Linked DNA regions of Homo sapiens: region 2 is linked to region 1. Evidence: fine-mapped expression QTL. Tissue or cell type: whole blood. Region 1 holds a variant in brackets; the other region holds the start of a gene. All regions are shown on one strand. Distances are between the middles of the regions.

The links. PIP is the estimated chance that this variant, and not a neighbour inherited with it, causes the effect.
Region 2: it holds the start of APLP2, and the variant in region 1 is fine-mapped to the expression of APLP2 in whole blood (TOPMed, PIP above 0.99).

The regions. Positions count from the first base shown.
Region 1 is chr11:130,048,180-130,050,931 of GRCh38, forward strand. No RefSeq gene overlaps it. Among named protein-coding and RNA genes, the nearest start is that of APLP2, 20 kb to the right of the region's middle. RefSeq lists a silencer at 1,241-1,441. The variant T/C (reference allele first, on the strand shown) is at 1,398.
Region 2 is chr11:130,068,601-130,071,352 of GRCh38, forward strand. APLP2 (amyloid beta precursor like protein 2) reads left to right here and starts at 1,294. Exons shown (of 17, transcript NM_001142276.2): 1 at 1,294-1,482. The coding sequence starts at 1,378. It overlaps LOC107984432 (a long non-coding RNA gene), which reads right to left and starts at 1,049. Exons shown (of 2, transcript XR_001748444.2): 1 at 864-1,049; 2 at 1-513. RefSeq lists enhancers at 1-485, 486-986 and silencers at 903-1,132, 1,523-1,652, 1,723-2,182.

The DNA.
Region 1 (2,752 bases):
GAATGTCAAATTCATCTGCCAATTCTCTCCATTCAGTTAAGGGAGAAAAAAAGCAAAATTGTTTGTTGGTCTAGTATAGATATCAAATGTTGAGATGATCAACTACATTTTTCTTTTTTATCTACTTGGTTTAGAATTGTATACATGTCGTCCTTCCACCTTAATAATAGATTAGGGTATTTTTTTTCTCTCCACCCTTTCACTTTTCAGCCACCTCCTTCTTTTACTTTGGGTTCAAGCTCAAGAGTTGGTTAAAGTGAAAGTTGCAGTACTCCACCAGTAAAGAAATTGGGGCTTGGCATCCAGTATCTAGACAAGTCACCTGAAAGTCTAGAACTGCACTGCCCAATACAGTATCCACTAGTTGCATGTAGCTATTTAAGTTAAAATTCATTACAATTAAATAAAATTTAAAATTCACTTCTTTGGCCAAGCACAGTGGCTCATGCCGTAATCCCAGCACTTTGTGAGGCCAAAGTGGGAGGACTGCTTGCGCTCAGGAGTTGGAGACCAGTCTGGGTAACATGTTGAGACCACGCCCCTACAAAAATTAAAAAAGAAAAAAAAAATTTACTTTCTCAGTCACACAAGGCACAAGCAAGTGCTCAATAGTCCCATGTGACTAGTGGCTACTGTTTTGGTGCACAGATATGGAATATGTCTCCACCTTGGAAATCACGATCGGTAGTTCTGGTCTGTAATTACGTGGCAGCAGCTACAGTTATAGCTTTCCAAATTTCCCACCTGCCTCCCAGTTTTGAAAAAACTCTTGGCCGGGCACAGTGGCTCACGCCTGTAATCCCAGCACTTTGGGAGGCTGAGGTGGGCAGATCACCTGAGGTCAGGAGTTTGAGACCAGCCTGGCTAACACGGTGAAACCCTATCTCTACTAAAAATACAAAATTAGCTGGACATGGTGGCACATGCCTGTAATCCCAGCTACTTGGGAGGCTGAGGCAGGAGAATCGCTTGAACCCAGGAGGCGGAGGTTGCAGTGAGCTAGGGTCGCACCATTGCACTCCAGCCTGGGCCATAAGAGTGAAACTGTCACACACAAAAAAAAGAGGAGAGGGGAGGGGACGGGAGGGGAGGGGAGGGGAGGGGAGGGGAGGGGAGGGGAGGGGAGAGGAGAGGAGAGGAGAGGAGAGGAGAGGAGAGGAGGGGAGAGGCAAAACCCTTAGTGGCGCAACTCTGGATGAGGAAACTGGGTAATACATGAGTGTTGAAGACAGAGCTTTTCAGAGGCCTCTCTGCTTTTCCCTGGAGACTGTTCTTTCTGGTCAGCCACCCAAGCTGTCCTGGCCTACACCTCTGAGCTGTTATAAAATCTTTTACTTATTTTTCCATGACCCACCCAAATGAGAATGTTGTAACATCTTCAGATAAAGCCCTCACCA[T/C]GAGACAGAAGTAGATCCACCCATCTAAGCTTCCTTTTATGTTTATTTGTGAAAGAGTTTAGAGGTTTGAGGCAAATGTCATAGAGAATGCAGTTTCATTCTTAAACTTCTAGTTACTGGATCTATGTGTTTCCTTCTTGGAAAGAAAATTAATGGTCAAGTAATAGATGTAGAGTATAGAGAGCAGGAAATTAGCCAATAGGCATTAAGTGACTACCTAAGGCCAGTGAGTGGTCCAGTTCAGAACGACTCCTACTTTTGTAGAGGACATGCTCTACTGAAAGACACAGCAAGGAGCTATATTGACACTTGCTAATCTTTGAATCAAGGAAAAGCAATTAGCAAATGAAATTTCTGGTGATATGTCTTTTTAAAACCCATGAGACTTCTCTTACAATTCTCCCCATGGTTTCTGTGATCTCACCTAGTGTACCATTATCGAATTTTTCATTAGTTTCATTCTCCCTCTAGATTTTTCCATTTGGCTTTTACTGAGGTGGGCTTTGTGGGTATTCTAGAATGACTCAGTACACCATTTAAACTTTAAATCACCACATTTTATTAGAACATCTATAAAGTATTTATTATTTCAATTAATAAAACTATGTCCTTTGGAATAATTGCCTTGGGTCATAAGTACAAAGTTAAAAACACTGAGCAAGTTATGTAAAACTATAAAAGCCTTTGGCAGATGATAAATGTGTGCTTTAGGCATTAAGCCATTTTAAATAATTATAAAGCAGCTTTCACAAAATAATCTCTTATGGAGAGGGCAGCTGAAGAATGATAGATGTTGGCCAAAACTCTCAAAGAAGCCACACTAGGGGCTTCCCCAGAATTGGAGTGAGGAGAAAGTTATGTAAACAAGAGTTGCCATGAAGAGGCCTCTGCTGTTTCTGTTCCCTCTTCCATTGGTGGAACTGGGAAACTGTAAGGAGACGTGCCCTGCCAGATCTCAGATGACTGCAGCGCTGCAGAGGGAGCAGGCAGTCACTAGGGTAACCAAATCTCAAACCATTGAAGTCTTTGGTAGACATGGTCAATACTTGAAATTCTCCTTAGAAGCAAAGAGGCAGCTTATTCGGGCCCCCTAAGACAACTTTAATCTTATACTTTCAGAGTTTCAGAGGTAAAGGATATAAATCTGTTTCATTTTAATTTAATTTTATGTCTTCTCCTGAATGCCAGGCAAATATTAGCATGGCGTGCTGTCATCATGAGCTTCTCTTAACTCACTAGGGGCTAATCATCATTCCCAGCTCCTCATCTTTGCCTCTTTGTAGTAGCAATAATGAGCTTGCAAGGGGATCTGGGAAGCCTCTTTGATTTAAGTTAGCCATGCAGAGTTACTAGTT
Region 2 (2,752 bases), 20 kb after region 1:
GACTGAGCCGAGGAACAGTGAAAACGCTTCCAACAGGCAGATGTTGGGGAGAGGACATTGCAGGCGCAGAAGAGTGTTAGGAAGGGCTGTGAAATGGAAAGGTGTCGTCTTGGAGGAATCGGGCAGAGCCAGTTTACCCACAGGGAACTGGGCATGTAGGGGAGAGTGGTGCAGAATAAGGCTGGAAAATCCCGAGTTCTTACAGGCGCACTCGTCTACTCCGCGGACAGTCTCTTCCTTTCTATTGTCAGCGTCCTGGGGGTAGGGTTGTGTTATGCATTTAGTTGAACCTGAAGGGACTAGTCCAGGTCTCTCAGAAGGCAGTACCTAACTCACAGGCGACTGAAAGGAAACAAGGCCAGCGGAGCCCTGGCGGTGGCGAGGCTGTGCCAATTGCTAAATGGGGCAGCAGGACGTTTTTCTCTACTGAAGTGGCAATGCCGCGGAGCAGGAAGGCAGAGTAGCAGGTCTCCCGCTAGTGCGTCTCAACCGAAGAAGCGGCGTGATCTCTTCCTAAAACACACGAGGAAGGGGGCCTGGGCTGTGAGGCCGGCGTGGTTCTTGCACCCCTGGTCTCTATCCCTGCCTGGGCAACTGCTGGGAAGGAAGGGTCGGCAAGAGGCCTAAAGACCGGAGGCCAAGGGTGCGGAGCGCGGCCGGACTCAGAGGCGAGGACCCGGCGGAGAGGCCTGGGCGGAGCAGGGCGGGAGAGGCGCGCCCTGAGTAGGGCTCGGGGGAGGACGATGGCTGCCTCCTGCGGTCCTCCCCCTGCCTCGGGGGACGGCCCTTGGCAGACCGTCCCGGACTCCTAATTCATCCTGTTTTTAATAAAACCATTTCCAGAATCAAAAAGAGGGCGGTACCCAAAGGAGTCTGAAGAATGCCCAGCAGGGGCAGGGGAGCGGGGCGTGCCCGTATCGGGAGGCTGAAGGCTGACGGACCAGCGCAGCAGGGACAGATAACCGCGCCGGGGGGCGGAGGCCAGAGCCAGCCCCGCGCCCACAGGGTTGCGGCCCCAGACCCGCCGCGCGCACGCCCCCGCGCCTGGCGGCCACAGGGTCCGGAGCGGGGGCGGGGCCATCCGCGGCCGGGGGCGGGGCCGGGCGGGGGGCGCGCGGTTGGACCGGGCGGGAGGAGCAGGCTCTTCCATCTCCTGATTGGGTCTGGACCGCAAGGGGGCGGGGTCTTGAGGGGTTCTGCGGGCCGGCATTGGGAGCCGCAGAAGGAGGGCGTGGTAATATGAAGTCAGTTCCGGTTGGTGTAAAACCCCCGGGGCGGCGGCGAACTGGCTTTAGATGCTTCTGGGTCGCGGTGTGCTAAGCGAGGAGTCCGAGTGTGTGAGCTTGAGAGCCGCGCGCTAGAGCGACCCGGCGAGGGATGGCGGCCACCGGGACCGCGGCCGCCGCAGCCACGGGCAGGCTCCTGCTTCTGCTGCTGGTGGGGCTCACGGCGCCTGCCTTGGCGCTGGCCGGCTACATCGAGGTGGGGACCGGGCGAACGCCGGAGAGTCGTCTCCTTCGCCCGCCGGAGGAGCGCGGACTGCGGGCGGGCAGCGGGGTCCGCGGCAGGGCGGGCCGGCGGTGCGGCGCCGGGGGTCCGGCTCTGCGGCGGGTCTGGCGCGCCCTCCCCCGCCCGTCCCTGCTTGGCGCAGTGCTTAGCGCTGGAGGTCGGGCTGCCTCAGCCGCCGCAGAGGCCAAATGAAAGGCGTCGGGGCTGCTGGGGGCGGCCGTCCGCCTCGGCCGACCCAGCCCCCAACCCGCCCGCGGCGCCGCCACCTCCTCCGGGGACCCAGTGCCCCCGGGCGCCCGCCCCGCCCTCCCCCGGGACAATGCCAGGGCGCTCCTCTCCCGCCGGAGTCCGCGGCTGGGCTTTCTCCAGGGGCGGCCCCGCGCGGACCCCGTACGCTCCCTCGCGCGGCACCGGGGCCTCGGCTCCGGGCCTCCCACCTGCGAGCGGCGGGCTTCGCCTTTGTTGCCAGGTGGACGCGGCCCCGGCCTTCGCGCGCGGCAGGGATGCTGCGAGCCCCGGGGGAGCTCCCGCGCCAGGCCGCCCGCTGCTCCCTCTGCCGCCTGGGGCCGGGTCGCGGACGCGCATTTTTTAAGTGGCGCTGTTTGCCTGCGTCCGTAGACCGAGGAAACCCGCTCTGGGTGCGTTGACCGCTTTCGTGAGGGTTTCAGTGAGTAGGGAAGGTGCCCGCGAAGGCGTGTAAACTGTTGGAAAAATCGTCCTCTTCGGGTGTCAGAATTCCATCAGTGGTTGTGCTTCGAGGTCGCACCCTGAGCATCCCCGCTGCGAGAAAGGCGAAGCGGCAGGGCCGGGGGTTGGGGAGGCCGCGGGAGGGGGCGGGGGCGGCGGGGTCCGCGGTGCGGGCCGGAGCGGGCAGCCTTGGAGGAGCCCTGCTGTGGCCGAGGGAGACGGCGAGCTTGATCTTTACTTCCCTTCTCGAAGTGGTGCTTGAACTGCTGGTCTGGAATGTGTAGTTCTGGTGTCGTTTATTTCTTCTCCCTCTTCGCTCTTTTAAAAATTACAACTGGTTTCTGCATACTTAGCTAATTTCAGAGAGACCTGAAGACTGGATTTGATTGGGCATTAATTGAGAGCTTTCTTTTAAAGACCTCAGGTTTAGAATATATTTACTTCTACAGAATGTTCAAGTATTTCCACGGGTAAAAATAAATCTAATAAAAAGCCTCTCTGATGGAACGGCTTAACACCTTTGTATTCATCCAGTTTAAAGCTTTGTGACTGTGAG